Homo sapiens: one gene and its partners. The protein of the gene in region 2 interacts with the protein of the main gene of each other region in a biochemical or structural test. Each region holds a gene or a part of one and is shown on either strand. Other genes may lie near its edges.

Region 1 (7,028 bases), about 91 Mb from region 2:
ATACTTCATTCTCAATAATTGATGGCAGAAACAAACTGAAAATCAGCACGGACATAAAAGACTTAATTAAGACTATTATCTAAAGGTTATCTAACTTGACCTGATAGCTATAGAACATTTCAACAAAAGCAGAATATATATTCTTTTCAAGTGCCATAAAACAGTCTCAATAAATTTACAAGAGGTGAACAAAGTAGGTTCTCCAACCATAATGGAATTAAATTAGAAACCAACAGCAAAACAACTTTTGAGAATTCCATAAATATTTGTAAATTAAACAGCATACTTCTAAATAACTCATAAGTCAAAGAAATTACAAGCAAAATGTAAAAACATTTTGAAATGAATGAAACTGAAAATACAACAGATCGAAATTTGTCAGATTTGGCCAGGTGCGGTGGCTCACGCCTATAATCCCAGCACTTTGGGAGGCTGAGGTGGGTGGATCACCTGAGGTCGGAGTTCCAGACCAACCTGGCCAACATGGTGAAACCTCATCTCTACTAAAAATACAAAAATTAGGCAGGTGTGGTGGTGGGCACCTGTAATCCCAGCTACTCCAGAGGCTGAGGCAAGAGAATCACTTGAACCTGGGAGGCAGAAGTTACTGTAAGCTGAGATGGCACCACTGTACTCCAGCCTGGGTAACAGAGCTAGACTCTGTCTCAAGAAAAATGAAATAAAATAAAATAAGAACAAACAGGAAATATTTTAGGTTTGGGGGCTGAAAAGTCTCTGTCTCAATAACTCAACTCTGCTGTTAGGCATGAACATAGCCAGAAGCATATAAATGAATGACTGTGGTTGTGTTCTAATAAAACTTCATCTATAAAAAGCAGGACAATTTGGCCCACTGTCCATAGCTTGCTAATCCTTGATGTATATGGGCAAAAAATATATACAATTTAAGTGAAACCACGAATGAACTTCTCTTTGGAGAAGCCCTCACCATTTGAAAAACAAACAAACAAAAACACACATTACAAAATTCAGGAACAAAAGAGGGGACATCACTAGCAACCTTATAAAAACTAAAAGGATTGTAAGTGTATAATATAAACAACTTGATTCTAGTAAATTAGGCCACTTAAATGCAACTAATAAATTCCTAAAAGACAAAAATTACCAAAATGGACTCAGAAACAAATAGAAAATCTAAATGTATAAAAGGTGAAGAAATTAAATTAGCAATTTAAAATATTCTTATTCTTAAAAGCCTGGATGCAGATGGTTTCACTAGTGAGTTCTACCAAACGTTTAGAGAAAAAAAGTAGTACTAATCTTCTGGAAACTCTTCCAGAAAATAGAGGATGTGCCAATATTATCCTGATATCAGAGCTAGACAAAGACATCACAAGAAAACTAAAAAGCAATATTTCTCATGAATATAGACTCCAATGTCCATAATAAAATATTGGTAAATCAAATCCAGCAACACATAAAAAAAATTATATACCATGACAGAGTGGGAATTGCTTCCTAGGAATACAATGGTTGGTTTAACATCTAAAAATTAATTAATGAAATCCATGACATTAATAGTTTAAAGATGAAAAATGACACGACAATACAATCTCAATAGACATTGAGAAAAAGCATATGACAAAATCCCACACTCATTCATGATTAAGGGATGGACAAAAAAAACCAAACCGTCTCAAAACTAGGAATAAAAGAGAACTGCCTGTCTCTAAAAGAAGTATTCGGTTAAACAAAATAAAAATAAAAAGGGAACTTCTTCCATCTAATAAAGGGCATCACAAAAACCTTACAACTAACAACATACTTAATCATGAAAGATGCAATGTCTTTCCCCTAAGATCAGGAATAAGGCAACGATGTCCATGGTCACCACTTCCATGCAACATTGTATTGAAAATTCTAGCCAGTACAATGAGTCAAAAAAAAAAAAAAAAGTTGGGGGCAGCGGGGACAAAAGGCATCCAGATTGTTAAGAAAGATTTAAAACTATCTGTTCACTGATAACATGAGCCTGTGTGTAGAAAACCTTAGGGAACCTATACAGAAAAATGAATAGACTAATAAGAGTTTCAGAAAGACCAAAGGATATAAGATCAATACACAAAAGCCAACCCCACTTCTATATGTAAGCAATGAGTAATCTGAAAAGGAAATTAAGAAAATAATTCCATTCAAACTTAAGCACTTGCAAATTTTTGATACTATAAATAACCTAGTTGATGGACATCCATGAATACATAAAGTACTTTCTGTATTTCAGATATCCATGTGGATAGATTTCTGGAACTTTATTTGCTTTCACAGTGACAGATACAAAGATACGGGCACTGAATATAAAATGATGGATTCAGAGAACAATGATTGTGTTGTAAAAAGTATGACCAAAAATATAAGGCAATTTTGGGTTCTGCTGCTTAACAGAGTTTCTTCTAAATAAACTCAAAAACAGTGAAGGTCACTCACCTGCACAGCATGAGATAAATCTGACATCAGACACTGACGGAACCTCTCATCACTCCCAATTCCTTGAAGAACAAAGTCAGGCACATAAGATGAGCAGTAGCCACCCAGCAAGGACCTCCCGAAGTTGGCAATGTTGGGCTGAACAGCACTCACTTCGATTAACTTTGACCTGGAAGAAAAATGCCCCCAAAAGACATTTATTTAGTAATAAATATATTTAACCAGTAAAAAAAAAAAAAAGTGAATTCTACTTGTCCATATTTTACACTAGTCTGTATTAAAATCAAGTGTAAAATCATCCTTATATAATGGTAACAATCGTAAAAATTAAGAGTAAAATGGTAATAATAGTAAAATCAAGAGTAAAATCATCGTTATTTAAAAACTGGCTCAAGTGCTCTATCAGAAAATAAAATACTCCTTCTTATTCAGAGAAGAAGGTCTGATGAGCAACTGAGTAATGAAGTGAGGATCAATCTTTCCTAAGAGACTTTAAGAGAATTGTACCTTGTGTTTGTAGCACATTCTTAATACAATCAGATTATGAAAACAATCATCTAAAACAAAACAATTAAATGCCTCACAAGTCCAAAGCTAGGTATGTAATGTTTCTCAAGCATGAATATTCTCCTTGCATACTTGACCCAAAGTATACATTCTCTGTTTTCCTCTTAGTCTTGGCCAAATCTATTTCTAACAGCTATTCTAACATCTCAGGGATTAGTGCTCCCTAACTGCCAGGCTCAGCATATGTCCTTTGGGGGGCATAAGTCACTCCTAAATGGCTTGAAACCTTCTAAGCAGTAAGAAATCTTATACTTATCAACCAGATCCTTTAACTTTTATTTGAGGTCTTCATAAAACCTTTCCAGGGTGTTTCTGGAGCTTAGCCTTTACTCCTTCTTATGAGTTAAGAGAATATGAAAACAAGAGAGCTATCCAGAACAATGATCTCTTTTATACTAACCTTCAGAGAACAGCTAAAAAAGAGAATGGTACATATTTATATAGGGCCCATTATAGGTGAAAACTTCCTACTTACCCAGGAAAAGGTATCTCATCCTCTTCTGCCCAATCTTCTTGCTCTCCTCCATAATAACTGCTAACTTGTCTAGTCATATCATGACCTGTATCTTCACTTTCACTATCCCCAAGGGCACTGTCTGAACTTTCATTTCTTGGAATGTCCCATTCAGTTCCTACAGCAATTTTTTTATCTGAACTCTCTTTATCCCCATGGGGGACAAGAATGGAGAGTGTATCTCTTTGGTCCTGCTGAGGAAAGCAGGTTTTACATGAATCTTGGGGAACTGTTTCTATACATTTACAAAATTCATTGTTCTGCTTGTTATTTTTTGTACACAATATTTTTGAAAACTCTAACATACAGCAATGGTCTTTACTATCTGTACTTGTTTTAAATGGAACATCATCAATAGTCCTGGTTTCGATTGAATCATCATTAAAATATTCGTCGAATAAGCTCATGCTTTCTGGGTCTGAATGATTCCAACAGGGAAGTTCACAGGGCTCTTCAGAAACCATGTTCTGTGTATCAGACTCTCCAGATTGGTCCTTGGTTGTTTGTTTAGTTTCTTGATGCTGATCAATAGCCCCTCTTTCTTCCTTCAATGGTTTGGTGTGATGTCTGGTAATCTGATCCACCACTGCCTGACTTCGAAGCTCAGTATCTGAATCAGGTGACATAGAATCCCCAATCAGGAAAGTAACCTTTGTCTGGGCAGCCTCACAAGAAAATGAAGCAGGCACAATCTTATCTGGAGGTTTTTTTTCCACAACCATTCCTGTGGATCTCATTGCTTTGCCTGTGTGACTGTCTGAATCCAGCAACTTCTCACTCTGCCATGTTTCCTCTGTTGACTCTAAGCCTGACTCTGACAATGCACATTTGTCTACTGGAACAGATCCTGTGCAAACAACTGTCTCTAACTTGGCGTCAAAGCAAGTTCTTAATTTATCTCTGTACTGTTTAACATCAACAGCATTTTCTTCTTGGCAGTCAGAAGGAGAAATCATCTGGCACTCATCTGAAATTCCTAGCAGCTCCTTAGAGCTGTTTTGAATATCTTCTCTCTCTTGTTGTGAAATGTTCTCTACATTTTGCCCAAGGAGTGGATGACTGCAATATTTACAGTTACAATTGGGAGTTCTAATTTCTTCTGACTCTTTAAAGAGCAAACTGCTTTTGTTTCTATGCATTGTGACAAGGACATACTCTGATTCTTCTATTTCACCTTTCTCTAAAGTGGTAGTAATTACTGTGCCTGGCATAACGATGGCTTCATCTTCTCCATTTTCTAAAAGATGCGTTTCTTGAAGTTCAGAGCATCTTATAAAATAAGTAAGAAAATAAAGTAGCCTCTGGACCATGTCTTGTCGTTTGCCAACTACCACAGTCCTTGCTAACCGTACGGGAGAGCCAATAGCGCCATACAAGTCTCCTGTAATGGAAAAAATCAGTTATTGGACATGTCCTTTACTGACACAGCTAAGTAAGCTATTTTTAATGATCAGAAACCTACTTCTTTTACTGTATGAGTAATAGTTTAGGTTTTACTCGTTTTTTTGTTTTTTTTTTTTTTGAGACAGGGTCTCACACTGTAATCCTGGCTGGAGTGCAGTGGTACAATCATGGTTCACTGCAGCCTCAGCCTCCTAGGCTCAGGTGATCCTGCTACCTCAGCCTCCTGAGTAGCTGGGACTATAAGCGCGTGCCACCATGCCTGGCTAATTTTTTGTATTTTTTTTTTTTTGTAGAGACAGAGTTTTGCCATGTTTCCTAGGGTGGTCTTGAGCTCCTGGGCTCAAGCAATCCACTGGCCCTGGCCTCCCAAAGTGCTGGGATTACAGGCGTGAGCCACCATGCCTGGCCTCACTCTTAGTTCTTTAACAGATGAGTGACTATTCAAGGGAGGAAGATGAGATGAATAATCTTAACCAGAGAGAAAGGTGAATTTAAGGGTTTTCTGGTTTCCTCTTTAAACAAATGCTATGGTTCAGAAACCTCAAGCAAAGAGTCAGTTCTGAAACTCACATATCCCAAGAATATTCTCTAACCCAGGCTCCATGCAGAGCATTTTTACCTTGTTAGAGAAGTACTGCCTGAAGTACTATGTACACAAGGATTCTGTAGCTGTGTCCAATCAAGAAAAGACAAAGCACAATATCCACTGGCTTGCAAGGAGAGGAAAGGAGTAGTGGTAAAATGGAGCAAAGCTATAGTCGTCACACCACACACTTAACCATTCCTGATTTAAATCATATCTCTGGGGCCGGGCACAGTGGCTCACGCTTGTAATTCCAGCACTCTGAGAGGCCGAGATGGGTGGATCACTTGAGACCAGGAGTTCAAGACCAGCCTGGCCAAGATGGTAAAACCCTGTACCTACTAAAAATACAAAAACTAGCCAGGTGGTGTCGTGGGCACCTGTAGTCCCAGCTACTTGGGAGGCTGAGGCTGGAGAATTACTTGAACCCAGGAGGCAGAGGGTGCACTGAGCCGAGATGACACCACTGCACTCCAGCCTGGGCAACAAGAGCAAGACTCCGTCTCAAAAAAATAAAAATAATAAAAAATAAAAAGAAATAAAATAAAAAAGTAAGTCATATCTCTGAACTTTAACTGTTGTTCCTCTAGCCAGCACCCCACCCCACCAGCTCCCATGTTTGTAAAAGCCTATTTTCCCCTTCCATTCCCTAGAGGGTTGGGTACTCAGGATAGGCCAGAAAGGGCAGGAAGAGAGAGACTCATCCTTACTAAAAGGAAAAGAAAGGGCAACAAGTTCAGCCATGCAGTTCATTTTCACTTTTGAATCCATTCTAAACATGACTAGCCATTATGTTAAAAGCAGGGGAGGTGAGGGGGGCAGGACTAGAAATTAGCATTTCTATATTTATGCTATACTTCAAATTAAACCAGTAATTTCAGTGCCAAAACTATGGAGAATAGGGCTGGGCATGGTGGCTTACACATGTAATCCCAGCATTTGGGGAGGTGGAAGCAGGCTGATCACTTGAGCCCAGGAGTTCAAGACCAGCCTGGGCAACATGGCGAAACCCTTGTCTCTACAAAAAAATACAGAAAATTAGCTGGGCATGGTGGCGCGCACCTGTAATCCCAGCTACCTGAGAGGCTGAGGCGGAAGAATCACCTGAGCCCAGGAAGTTGAGGCTGCAGTGAGCTGTGATCGCACCACCACACTCCAGCCTGTGCAATAGCGTGAGACCCTGTCTCAAGAAAGAAAGAAAAAAAAAGGAGAATACAAAGCCATTAATTTCAACTTAATTCAATTTTTGAAGTTGTCAGTATACACATTTAAAATCCTCTATTTTTACTTTACAAAGCCCTCACACTTTTTAAAGGAACAAATATAAATAGGTCTCAAATAAATATAAGCTATAGATACTATTATGATAAATTTTCTCTTCTGGCTAACACACTGGCTCAAATATCACCATGCCACTGTTCTAAACTACTCCCATAATTCCCACAAATTACCAAGTAAGTTGAAATTGCTTTGGCATGGCAAGTGAGTCTTTCATGATTCCCACTTTACTTTTCC
Region 2 (7,028 bases):
CAGCAGACTAAAAAAATGAAAATTTCAGAAAATAAGAAACTTTTGAAATAGAAAATACGGGTGCTGAAATTTTAATATTCAACTGGTAAAACTGAAGAAATACCCACAAGGTAAAACCAAGAAATAAACAACAACAGAAAAGATAAGAAAAATATATATCAATTGTGCCTGTTTCCCATTTCTCCAGGCAGAATTTTTTTTTTTTTTTTTTTTTTGGTAAGGAGAAGCAGGAGTAAAGGGGAGTACCTGAAATAGAAATGAATCATGTTAAGAAATAGTAAAATCAAAATTAACTTGGTTAATAAGTTTGATTTTGATAAAAGTAAATAGACATGCTATATAGAACAAATGAATGAGTAATGTAAATAACTTAAAATTGAGAGAAAAGCTCTCTTTTCAGGGCTAGCTACAGCTCTCCCACAAAGGGGCTTTTGCATACCACATAACCTGGGTATGAGAAAAAGTATGGGCAGAGGGCAGTGTTGAGTTTTTGTATCTGTAACTTAAGGTAGTGTTCAAAATGTCCTACAAAGTTCCTTCCAGCTGTAAATTCTTTATATCTAATTCCTACCTCCTTCGTGGAGCCTGTTTTTACTACTCCAGGTACATCAGATTTCTGAAACCAAAAAATGAATGCAATTTAAATGTGGCTAGAATTGACTAGCAAGGCCTAGATCTTTAAGTAATAATAATATATTTTGTAACGATTAATTACATTAAGATACATATTCAAAGTATTTGTATACCCTGGAAGCATAAGTCTGAGGATTATGAGTTCTGGGGGCTCAAGCCAATTCCGTCATTAATAAATCACGTTACTGTGAGCAATCATATAAGCCGCGAGGCTCAGTATCCACATCTGTATAAACAGGCTAAGGAGATAATCTTTAAGATCCTTTCTAGTTCTACATAGTTTATGATTCTAAACAAATATATGACTAAGGGAACTGGTTATTAAATAGACCTCTTAAAATTGGTTGCTGACATTTTGATGCTAGTAAAGGATAAAGGGGAGTTACAAAATACATACAGAATTAAAGCAGAACAGCTTACCCTTCCATTCTTACAGATATAATCAAATAGCTCTCCTCCTGAGACATATTCCATCACCATGAAAATATCAGATGGTGTACTGATGACCTGGTACCTGGTGAGAGAAAACATTGTCTACAAATATTAAAACACATATATTCATTCATTCAATAAATATTTACTAAGCACCTATAGTATACCAGGTACTAGGCTAGGAGCTAGAAAAACTGCAGGAAACAAAAATTCTCTGCTCTCATGGAGTTCATGTTCCAGGAACCAGGAAACAGACACTAAATAAATAAGCAATATCTCAGGTGGTGGAACATGCTATGAAGAAAAATAAAGCAAATGAAGGGGAATCTTTGTATACAGAGTGCTAAAGGAAAGCCTCTAATAAAGTAACATTTGAGCTGAGCCTAAAAGAAGAATGGGAACAAATTATGTAATTATCTAGGAGGAAAGCGAAACTGGGAGAGGGAATAGCAACTGCAAAGGTCCCCAAGTAGAAGCCTGCTTGGCATGTTCGAGGAATATTAGAGAGAAATAGGATGTAGAGTCAAAGGTGTTAACTGCAGGCCAGAAGACACAGAATTTTACAAGCCATGATAAGGCTTTGGCTTTTACTCCAAGGAAGATGAAAAGCTATCGTACGTTTTAAGCAGTCATGTGATCTGGCATATTAAAAGTAAAACTATGGCAGCAATGTGAAGAATTAACTGTCAACAGTAAAGGTAGCCACAGGAGGTTACTTCAGGATTTCATGAGACAGATGGTGGCTGAGACCAGGTTGACAGCAATAAAGGAACTGAGAAGCAATCAAATCCTAGCTTGATTGTGAAGGAAGAAATGAAATGCATGGTAGAAAGTGAAAGAAACAGGGAAGTTAAAAATGGTTCCTAAGTTTTAGCCCTGGGTCATTGGCTGTTAGCCAAGATGGTGAAAACTGTGGGAAGAGCAGGTTTGGGAGAGTAATAAAGAGTTCATTTTGGGCCGGGTTGAGTTTTAAATGTCTTGCGAACATCCAAATGGAAATGTAAAGTCAGCAGTGAGCAAATAAGTCTGGTGTAAGAAGAGATCTTAAAGCAAGAGATGTACATTTAGGGGTGGTCAGCATATGGATGGTATTTAAAACCTAGCACTCAACAAATGAGAAGAGGTAAGAGTGAAACAAGTTTGAGTCAGCCAGTTCAGGAGAAAAACCTAAGCATCTTTAAGTTATTGCCTGCATAACAAAGCAGAAGCTGAGCAGGAAATAGTTATTTGTAGACTCTATAACTGGCAACTGTAAAACAACAGTAAGATTACTGCCCTTTTGAAACCTTGGATTCCTGAAATTTTGTTATCTATATGTTCAGGTATAAGCAGGATGGGGAAAAACCCTTTCTACTACCGCATTCTCACTAGTGAGGCTAACTGACATCATGTGGGCATTTGGAGGTCAAGAGTTTTTACTAGCAGATCACTGTTGGTTTTACAGCAATGGGGCACCAAACATTACCAGAAGAGCATCTTTCCAGGAGACAGGAAAGAATGAGAAGATAACAGCTGATAAGCACAAGGGCAAAACATGAACACAGGCTTAAATGACCATCAATGGGGTTAGAAAAATACATGAATGGGAAGAAACTTTTATTTTTTTTTGGGACAGAGTTTCGCTTTTGTTGCCCAAGCTGGAGTGCAATGGCACGATCTCAGCTCACTGCAACCTCCGCCTCCCAGGTTCAAGCCATTCTCCTGCCTTAGCCTCCCGAGTAGCTGGTATTACAGGCGCCCACCACCATGCCCAGCTAATTTTTGTATTTTTACTGGAGACAGGGTTTCACCATGTTGGCCAGGCTGGTCTCGAACTCCTGACCTCAGGTGATCCGCCTGCCTCAGCCTCCCAAAGTACTGGAATTACAGGTGTGAGCCACCGCACACAGCCTAGGAAGAAACTTTTCAAAACCCTTAGGAAACAAAAAGAAGTGTCAGTCATTTTTCTCACTTGTCACATTAAGTAGGTTAACAAAAAAGATGAAAAGATGACTGGACTATATTTAATATAAACAGAGCTTACAGTTTAATTATATGAGGATGCCTGAAAAGCTTGAGGTTCTGAATTTCTCTGCGGATTTTTCCTACCACATCAAGGCTCCGAATCTTCTGTCGATTGAGTATCTTCACAGCTACTTTATGCCCAGTCAATTCATGTTTGCCAACTGTAAAAGAAGTAATTTAATAAATTAGTACTAAGTATGATTAATAATATATTTACACATATTCTGGCCCGGTGCAGTGGCTCATGCCTGTAATCCCAGCACTTTGGGAGGCCGAGGCGAGTAGATCACTTGAGGTCAGGAGTTCGAAACCAATCTGGCCAACATGGCAAAACCCCATCTCTACTAAAAAATACAAAAATTAATGGCCGGGAGCGGTGGCTCATGCCTGTAATCCCAGCACTTTGGGAGGCCGAGGCGGGCAGATCACCTGAGATCAGGAGTTCGAGACCAGCCCGGCTAACATGGTGAAACCCCGTTTCTACTAAAAATACAAAAAATTGGCGAGGCGTGCTGGTACACAGCTGTAATCCCAGCTACTCGGGAGGCTGAGGCAGGAGAATCGCTTGAACCCAGGAGGCGGAGGTTGCAGTGAGCCGAGATCACACCACTGCACTCCAGCTTGGGCAACAAGAGCAAAACTCTGTCTCAAACAAACAAACAAATACAAAAATTAGCTGGGTGCAGTGGTGGCACATGCCTGTAATCCCAGCTACTTGGGAGGTGAAGCAGGAGAATCACTTGAACCTGGGAGGCAGAGGTTGCAGTGAGCCCAGATTGCACCACTGCACTCCAGTCTGGGGTGATGATTGAGACTCTGCCTCAACAAAATAAAAATAATAATATATTTAGACATATTATAAGAGTAGTCATCTAGCATCCTCAGAAAATAGCTAAGCAAATATAAGTTATTTTCTCTTTTGCCAGATTCATCCCAAATGTTCAGATGTTTAAGAGTGATTACATAGGAGAATACATAAGAAATTGGTAACAGTGGTTTCTTCCAGAAGAGAAAGCTAGAAGACTAAAGGAAGAGGGGAAGGAGACTTTTTTGCTGTATACCTTTTCGTATTTTTAAATTCTTTTAATTTTTCACCTTTTAACCTATCATACACACAGACTAAAATTTTTCTTTTAGTATCATTTATATGGATATTAAAACATATAGAAATTGGTGTAACCAGCATTATATAGTCAGATACAGAACAGTTCCATCATCCCAAAAGACTCTCTCATGTCATAGATACATTTCCCCATCCATAACCTCTTATACCTTTGAAATTCTGGTTCATGTGCATGTGGTTTCTAGTTTTTTTGGTTTCTCTGTGTTTTAAATTTTTTTTCCTGTTTTTTAATTTTTTTTTTTTTTTTTTTTTTTTTGAGACAGGGTGTCACTCTATCACCCAGGGTGGAGTGCCGTGTCACAATCAGAGCTCACTGCAGCGTTAACCTCCCCAGGCTCAGGTGATCAGGTGATCCTCCCATCTCAGCCTCCCAAGTAGCTGGGACTACAGGCAGGCCCCACCACACCCAGATAATTTTTTTGTATTTTTCTGTAGAAATGATGTTTTACCATATTGACCAGGATGGTCTCAAACTCCTCAGTTCAAGCAATCCACCAGCCTCAACTTCCCAAAGTGCTAGGATTATAGGTGTGAGCCACCATGCCCAGCCTCTATTTTTTTAAATGCAGTTAAAAATAAAGGGAAAAAAAAAATCAAGTCATTTTATCTTTCCATTTTAAATGTTATCACTAGACAGTCGGTGGTGACAGAATTTGGGTTTAGGACATAATCCCAAAAGACACAATCCCAAATGCCATAATCCCAAATGTTGAAATCCCAAAAGATCAAAATCCCTAAAATCTAAAATTCCAAAAATCACAATCCCAAAAGAACAAAATCCAAAAAATTGAATTCTGGAAAAATAATTTGTAAAAAGTTCTCTAAAAGACACTTATTTCCATTTTTAAAAGATTTATTTGAGAAACATAAAAACACAACGGAACAGTTCATAGGCCCCTTTACACAATAAAATAGGCACTAATAACATATTTTTGCAAGCATAAATACTCAGGTATACTAACAACCATTGCATGGGTATAATAGGAACAGAGAAAATGTATTCATGAAGAAATAGATTAAAAAGCAAAATGGATAAACACGTATCACTATGGTTGGTAATCAGGTGCACCCAGATTCATAACTGCGGTCATCTGAAATACCAGACAACCTGAATCTTCTGACAAGATCGATCAAAAACTGCAATGGGTCACTACCGTTTGCACAAAAACTGCAATAGAGTCACCCAAAGAGCCAAGATCTTGAGAAATTTTATCTTTCACAAATACAGATGAACAAAACGGACATCTCTTCATTTACTGAGCAAGTTTCAACATTTTTATGTACATGCACAATGCTTACACATTACGTCACATTGTGATAATGCACTTTCATGGAGTCAAATATGCAAAAAAAAAGTGCATAAAATGAATTAGAATTCTCTAAAAGCCTTTACAGAATTTATACCTGCAGTATTAGAAATGATGCAAAGATAAAATACATAGCATAGCAAATTGGCACTATGTGTGAAAGGGCAGAAGTCATACCTGATTGAATAATTTGGCAGGGGAGCTTTCTTATATTTTTCACCTGCATATTCACTTCTATGATCTTCAAAACATTCACTTGTGTTTAGACTAGAGCGGTTGTGGTCTAAATATTTTGTAAGTATATGCTGACCATTTAGAAATCTGGTTATTGCTTGGCCATTGCAATTAAGTGATTTTCTGTCTTCACAACACCAATAATAATTAGCTTTTAAACTTTTCTCTTTCAGCATTAAGTAGCCTGGTATACTTAATTTATCACAGCCTTTTTGCAAGGGAACAATTTCACAGGTCTCTTCCACTGTGCTGTAAGGAATACAGTAAGAAGGAATGATATTTGGCTTTCTCAATACCAAATCCGTATTAGTCAGCATTCTCGACAGACATAATTCTCGACAGACAGCATTCTTGAGAGACATAACCAATAAGATATATATATACATAGATATATGAGAGACGATTTATTAGGGGAATTGGCTCATGCGATTATAGTGGCTGATAAGTTCCAGGACAGGTCATTTTCAAGCTGGAGACCCTGGCATGCTGGTAGCTTGGCTCAGTCCAAAGACCTCAGAACCAAGCCAAACCAGGTCTCAGTCTGAGGCTGAAAGCCCAGGACCCAGGGGGCTGCTGGTGTATGTCCTAGAGTCCAAATGCCAACAAGCCTGGAGTTCTGATGTTCAATTCAGCAGAAGAAAAGTCCGTTCCAGCTCTCAGAAAGGCAACAATTTGTTTTCTCTGGGCCCCCAGCAGATTTAATGGTGGCCACCGCTATTGAGGGCAGATCTTCCCCACCTAGTCCACTCAGACTCACATACTAATCTCCTCACAGACAAACCCAAAATAATGCTTTAACAAGTTTCTAGGTATTTCTTAATCCAGTCAAGTTGACACCTAAAATTAAATCCATGAATCCACCCCTCGTCAATTTGGCACCCATAAACCATCTCCTTAAACCATACTTAATTTCCAAATAAATACAATAAAAAGGCAATCGGTTCCACCTAATATGATGCAAGTAAAATGATGCAACTATCTTTCATACAACCGAATGTGCACTAATTTCTACCCCAGGTGTTGGCTTTCAGCATTTCAACATTTGGGATTTTAATCTTTCATGATTCTGATTTTCAGGATTTCAGATGTGTGAGATTTTTAGAATTTAGGGATTCTGATTTTTAGAGATTTTGATCTTTCAGTATTTCAACATTTGGGATTATGGCATTAGGGATTTGGTCTTTTGGGGATATGATCACCAGTAGAATTTAGACAGTCATGAGGCTAAGTCTCCAAAAATTTAACCTTTGTGCACCCTTTCTCAGGAACCTACTGGAGAATATATATTCCATCAA
Region 3 (7,028 bases), on a different chromosome or scaffold from region 2:
TATGAGTGAGGACCATGTGTGGGGCAAAGCCTCAGAATGATGAAAAGGTTCCGGCACTATAGTTGGGGCCATGTTGACTCCTTTTCAACCATTTGTCACAGACGTGAGAAGAAGAAATGACTTCAAAATCAAGAGAAAACAAATACTGAAAGTCTCTACTTACATCCAAATTTTAAAAAATAAAATCTGTAGATTAACAATCTGATCATTGCTAAAGTGAAGCTGTTTTTGTCTATTTGATATAGCTATACTGGTATCCAAAATATGCCAGTCATCTGTGTCTTTAAAATTCAGAGATTTTAGTCCTCTGTTATGGGCCTGGGGAACGTGTACTATCCTATAAACACATGATTAGGCGGGGGACACTTCTTAGCGAGAGCACTCACCCTTGTTAGTGAGCACTCCAGAGGGGCCACCCATAGGCATTGGCCAGGCTGGTCTGCTGTTGACTAGGGGAGGGTAACACTAAGACATTCGTGACTCTTAGAGAATCAGAGGCTGCTTCACTGAATGAATGAATCTGATAGTTTGTTGTCTTTAGTTGACAACATGCTTCTAACTAACTTGAAACTGCAGAAATAGCAAAAAGCAGACAGTTTCAAAATATCAAATATAACTAAATATTGAAATGAAAAGCACACGTCCTGTCTCTGCAGTCTGAAGCTACATGTAAGCAGGACACTCATGTGTCTTCCAATTACAACTAAACAGACCTGGCTGTCAGTAATCTGCATTCTCAGTGGCCTCTGGGCTCACTTTAGACAATACTTTCAGCCTCCTTCATTCCAATTACTTCACTACCTTGGGGGAAATAATTTTAGAGAAGATAAAAGTAGCATTTTTCATTCTCTAAAATCACTTTGTATTTTATAGTAGTACATGCCTTTGCTGTCTGAACTAAAAAAAGACAAAATATAGAAATGCTTTTGATTTTCTTTGTAAATGGTATTTTGACTCTATAGTGTATTTGTACCTGACATCATCTCCGTTAAAGCAGTTTTATTCCTGAGATGAGGGTACAGTGGAAAACACATTAGCATCATAGATTAAAACCAGTTGACAGCGGTCTCCTAAAATGCTAAATAATAAAAATTTCCACCAAAAGCACCATAACAGGTTATGAAACTCCCAAATAACTACAGCCCTAGGAAATATTTTTTAATTAAAAAAAGTTCACAATCTTTTATGTTACAGGAAAAAAATCCGTAAATCTTTCTGACTATAAACCGCCTCACAAGTCTGAGAATATGACACTTTTACACTGATTTACCACTTTCATTGTTATCAGTTAAAATCCATATGGCTTTTAGTCTTTTACCTACCCAAAAAGGTGAGGGGGCAGGGGGTTCCTTCATAGTGCCCAGGATTTTGAGGGACATTTCCCAACCAAATGTAATTCAGCATTAAATTTTCCACAGATAAATTAGGCACATCAGACCAGATTTCAACTGCATTGAGATTTCAACACTGTATATCCTGACTGAAATAACTAACTTGAAAGCTTCCACTAGTGACTGAAGGGATGGTGGGAAGGGGGTTGTGTATCTAGTGACATGAAGGATGGTGGGAAGGGGGTTGTGTATTGGTGTCGAGACACATCACAGGGACCAGCTGTGTAATTTTGCAAGTGAAACTGCCAATACTTCTTTTTAGATTGAAAACACTGTACTTTGAGTTTCCTAGAGATCTATTTACATTTAAGAATTGAGCCATCCATGGATTCATAATGAAGCACATATGTTTTAGAAATGTCTACCTTGTTTCTACTCTGATAGTGGTATTTTTATTGGGGGAGAGCTAGCTAACCTACTTGAAAGAAAAATTATTCTATTTTATAGCTCCAAGGAAGATCTGGGCATGGAATATCATGAGTCTTTCTGAGCTTCCTCATGTTTTCACTGTACCCTTTCCAACTATTTTGCCTCCATGGCAGAGAACTTCTTATCCTATTTCTCTTCCCACTTCCAGTAAGTGAGGACAGGCTAGTGCCTATTTTGTGGGAAGGCTCTTGAGCAGAGAGAAATGAATAAAACTTTGGATTAAACCTGAATCTGTGCCACTTCTTTGAGTAGTGGTGGCGTAAATGAGACAATCTAGAAACTCTGTTTCCCGGGGATTTGAACTGTTCATTTTCCAACCCTGAACAGACAGGAGACAAGCTCTGCATTCTGTATATCTGCTCCCCTGTTGAACCCAAATTGAAAGCAGTGGGAAACTCTCCAGCACCACTCCATTCAGGCAATGATGACTGAACTGATTTTTTCTCCATCATTAACTCATTAATAAGATTTGCTTTCTTTGGTGCACCAGGACCAAACATCTCAACTGGTAGCAAAAACTGGGCACTGTGAGGTTTGCTTGCTTCTATTTGTGTGAGATCTAGGTAGCCTGGGTCTTCCAGCACGTTGATTTGGGACCCTGGGCTCAGGCTAGTTCTATCAGTGAATGAATCCACACGCCCATCATAGCCTAGGTCGGCTGGTGCTGAGCACTGGTGCTGAGGCCAAGGGCGTTTGCACTCTCCATGATTCTCCTTATCATCCCCACCATCTTCTTGCCCTCCTTGAAAAGAGTTCTCTGTCCAATCTGATTCCTCACTAACATTTACAGCTTTGTTCATGTCCCTCAGGAATACCACAATAACCGTGATGTTATCACTTGACCCAGCATCACGAGCTGATGCCACTAATTTGTGGGCAACCATGCTGCTGTCTCCATTATTCTCTTTCAGGTGGTCGGACACAACTTTCACTGCCTCATCAGGGTTCACGGTGTCATAGAAGCCATCACAGGCCAGAATGAGGTAGTCTTCGGTCCCATCCAGAACAGTGGAGGCAGAATCTGCATCCCCACAGATATATGGCTTATGTTCAGCATCTCCTGCGGGAAGCAGAGTGTAGGGGCATCATTAGCATTTGTTTTACCTTGCATGCTAAGAACGTTTATGACCAATGCCATGACTCTGATCACAGCTTACTGGATTGTGAACTGACTTGACTGGAAAGAATTTATAAAATAGTTTTTGACAAAATACTTAAATTCTCTGGTAATCAGATCTGCTTACTCCTTACTCCCAGTTAAATAATTGCTAGTTACTGGGCATAAGTCCTTACCTAGCTTAGACTCTGAATCTGCACCTCTGGCTATGATTTAGGCTTAGCTGAGTGTAACAACAATGTCAGATCTAAAAGTTTGTTGCTGTACTGAAAAATTCAGTACACTGTGTAGGAAGACATGGTTGATTCAGTAGATCTGTTCTTTTGCAGGTGGTTTTGATTTAATTGAAATTTGAAAACAAGCCCACATTGAAAGAAGCAAACCAAAGCTCTGATCATTCTCTTCATTAAATAATTTTTGTTCTATTCTTGTTTAGAAATCAATAAATAGCTTCATGCTGCGAGCACGAAGGAAGGTTTGAGTTACACGAGATTTTATAAATCAAGTCTAACTCCCTTAAGCCAGGAGGAGTTATGTGGCTGACCCAAGGCCTCACACATGGGAGCTGAATGCAGTTTTCTTGATTCCCAACCCACTTGGCTTTCTATTTTTTAGTGGTGCTTTACCTGTAACTTCTAGAGAACAGACAAAATGTATGGCCATTTTTCTCTTATATTTAGAGACTGCCATATTCTTCATATGGCTCTGCTCATCGCCCCACTTCTGTCTTTATTGTTATTGTGCATTTCCCCACTCATTAACAACTGTGAGAACCCAAGGTCTTTCTGGGCCTTTCTCTCTTCCTTTTCTTGCTTAGCTTCGTCCTCTCACAGAATGACATCTGAGCTGGTCCTGAAGGGTAAGTTAGTTATCACCAGGCAGAGAAGTTGCCTCAATTGAGGGAACAGGATAAGCAAAGGCAGAGGCAACTGTTAGGGAGTAATGTACAGTTGGAGAGTAGGGTGCTTGGGGTAGGAGCGAGACTGCAGACCTTGGGACCACACTAAACTAGGTTTCTATCACCAGACTACTGAGATAATTGATCATTTAGGGCTTTCAGATCCAGAGCACTTCCAAATCCATTCATTGTTTACATTGATTACATTCCTTTAGGTACCTTGTGAGAGTGCAGCAAAAGGGTCCTTAGCCTATGAGGTAACCAAATAGCTTATGACTACAACAAGGGACTCTCAATTCACTTTTTTATTTTTATTTTTATTTTTTGTCGCCCAGGCTGGAGTGCAGTGGCACAATCTCGGGTCACTGCAGCCTCTGCCTCCCAGGTTCCAGCAATTCTCCTGCCTCCGCCTCCGGAGTAGCTGGGATTACAGGCGTACGCCACCACACCTGGCTAATTTTTATATTTTTATTAGAGACGGGGTTTCACCATATTGGCCAGGCTGGCGTCGAACTCCTGACCTCTGATAATCTGCCTGTGTCGGCCTCCCAAAGTGCTGGGATAACAGGCATGAGCCACCGCATCTGGCCTCTCATTCACTTCTTTACAAAAAAATAAAAACAAAACCACACACAGGGTACTGAGCAATAATTCCTAGAGTAGGGTATCATAAATCATCATTACATAGTATTATAAAAACAAGAAATAAACTCCAGATATTTACAAAGGGCTTTACTGTATAGCAGTGGCATATTGCTTAGTGGTTAAGGACACCAGCACTAGTGTCAGACTGCCTGGGTCCAAATCCTAGCTCTTCTACTTGTCACCTACACAACTCTCATCAATTACTATCCTTTCCATTGCACTAAAACCGAACTTTTTGACTCAGGGAATATTAAAATGAAGATAAACTCACTTGAGTAATCTGACTATATATTCATTATTTCTAGTATCTGTTATAGGTTCTCTTTGACACAAGAAAGTTGGCCAGGCGCATGCCTGTAATCCCAGCACTTTGGGAGGCCAAGGCGGGAGGATACTTGAGGTCGGGAGTACGAAGCCAGCCTGGCCATCATGGTGAAACCTTGTCTCTACTAAAAATACAAAAATTAGCCGGGCCTGGTGGCATGCATGCAAAGTCCCAGCTACTCAAGAGGCTGAGGCAGGAGAATTGTTTGAACCCAGGAGGCAGAGGTTGCAGTGAGCCCAGATTGCGCCACTGCACTCCAGCCTGGATGACAGAGGGAGACTCTGTCTCAAAAAAAAGTTTCTTTCCAACATTTAACATCCCTGTTTAATCCTCAAATAGGCTAGAAAGCTCATTAGGAACCCTATGGATAACTCTGCTAGAACCAATGTGGGCACATGCCCTATCTAGCAGGTTGCATGATTAGATACACAGAGCAACAAATAATTAATATAATTACCTGAGTTAGTATATCTATTAGGTAAGAAATTAGTCTTCGACATTATAAATGTTCATTTCACTCCTTCCATTCACAAACACAACCTCTCATCTTACTCATATCTAGGCTCTTCTCCATTCATTCATTCATTATTTCTTTTTTTTTTTTTTTTGAGACAGAGTCTCACTGTGGCCCAGACTGGAGTGCAGTGGTGTGATCTCAGCTCATTGCAACCTCCACCTCCCGGATTCAAGCAATTCTCCTGCCTCAGCCTCCCAAGTAGCTGGGATTACAGGCACGCACCACAATACCCAGCTAATTTTTGTGTTTTTAGTAGAGACAGGGTTTCACCATGTTGGTCAGGCTGGTCTTGAACTCCTGACCTTGTGATCTACCCACCTGGGCTTCTCAAAGTGCTGGGATTCTAGGTGTGAGCCACCGCGCCCAGCCCTCATTCATTATTTCTTACAGGAGTCAAAACCATCTTTCCCAAGCATGCTTTTGATTTAATCAACTTCACTTATATGCTAAGGTGCCTCCATAGCCTGTTAGAGCTCATTAAAACTCAATCTATTTAAGCAGAAAATGCAAAAATTTAAAAGATATTTAAAAATAAATAATAAATAAAATCCAATATGGGATTCAGTGTCCTTCACCAATTTACTAAAGTTCCCATCCCCTATTCTACCTGACTATATGATTATCATCATTATTATTTTTTGAATTCCGCCTCTAAAAATAAATGTGATCTGAGTCACACTGTTCCCAAAAATCTTGTTTTAGTGCTTCAATTAAAAGACTGCTGCAACTGTTAGTTTGGAACAGAACATACAAAGATTTGTACAGAGAAAATGCTGCCAAAGTTCTGGCTTTTCACCTGCTCTACTGTTGGGTGTCAAATTCATGACATTTCGCCCCCAAATTTGGTAGGAGGGCATGAATATCCATTTCATCGTAGAAATGGCAACATCCTTTTGTCTTCAACCTCTTCTCTCCATATGTTAGGAAACATATCATGCCTCTGTCAACTTTGGATCATAAATCTGAAGGGCTCATGGGGAGAAACTGTTGAAAACCTTTTCATTTTTATAAGTATCATTTCTTTCCTGAGTAGAGCTGAACTCTGCCCAGGAGTCCTTTTTCTTGTCCTTTTGCAGCCCCCCATTTTATTCCATGTGGTTTCCAATTCTTTCTCAAATTCTTCAACTCCCTCATCCACTTAAGCTACTGGATTTTGGTAAATGGCCTAATTTCCTACTTCAAAGACAAGTTGATCAGGCTTGAATTTTCTCAATTCCCCTCCCACCCTTGCCACACATGCACTGTTTAATCTGTAGAGATTCTCCCATATCAGCTACCATTTTCTCAGGGTAAGCAGTGTCCTTTTCCCATCCTAACAGTGAGCCTGTGCTGCTCTGGCTTCTCTACTCTCTCGTCTTCAATTTCTCCTCTACTTGCTCTCTTCCTTGTCCTACAAACATGCTCAAATCTAAAATCTCCTCGTCCTAAAAATAGAAACAATAAAAAGGAACCCTTTCCTGAATCAGCTTTTGCCTTAAGCCACCACACTATTTCCTTTCTCCCCTTCACCATCAAACTGCCCAAGAAACTAAATCTACACTTGCTCCTTTATGTTACTGCCTATTTCCAGTGCCAGATTGTTTGTTGATTAGTAGGTTTTCCCACCAACCAATCCATCTCATCAGTTGATACCCTCCTCCATATTCCTTTTTAGCTCTCCTCATCTCTGTAACAAACTGTATGAATGTCTCCCAGCCAGGCTCTTT

Evidence for each region.
Region 1: the proteins of PRKAA1 (region 2) and FNIP1 form a complex in vitro, tested with the Homo sapiens proteins (one study listed by BioGRID).
Region 3: of the proteins of PRKAA1 (region 2) and PPM1E, one has a biochemical effect on the other in vitro, tested with the Homo sapiens proteins (one study listed by BioGRID).

What each region holds. Positions count from the first base shown.
Region 1 is NC_000005.10:131,668,018-131,675,045, forward strand, and holds part of FNIP1 (folliculin-interacting protein 1), read right to left. Parts: intron 4,908-7,028; coding exon 3,488-4,907; intron 2,615-3,487; coding exon 2,446-2,614; intron 1-2,445. UniProt on the Homo sapiens protein: Binding partner of the GTPase-activating protein FLCN: involved in the cellular response to amino acid availability by regulating the non-canonical mTORC1 signaling cascade controlling the MiT/TFE factors TFEB and TFE3.
Region 2 is NC_000005.10:40,774,357-40,781,384, forward strand, and holds part of PRKAA1 (5'-AMP-activated protein kinase catalytic subunit alpha-1), read right to left. Parts: exon of another isoform or gene 6,999-7,028; intron 5,983-6,998; exon of another isoform or gene 5,726-5,982; coding exon of another isoform or gene 5,677-5,725; intron 3,231-5,676; coding exon 3,089-3,230; intron 1,148-3,088; coding exon 1,054-1,147; intron 617-1,053; coding exon of another isoform or gene 572-616; intron 1-571. UniProt on the Homo sapiens protein: Catalytic subunit of AMP-activated protein kinase (AMPK), an energy sensor protein kinase that plays a key role in regulating cellular energy metabolism.
Region 3 is NC_000017.11:58,975,826-58,982,853, reverse strand, and holds part of PPM1E (protein phosphatase 1E), read right to left. Parts: intron 2,881-7,028; coding exon 1,823-2,880; 3' UTR 1-1,822. UniProt on the Homo sapiens protein: Protein phosphatase that inactivates multifunctional CaM kinases such as CAMK4 and CAMK2. Dephosphorylates and inactivates PAK. May play a role in the inhibition of actin fiber stress breakdown and in morphological changes driven by TNK2/CDC42.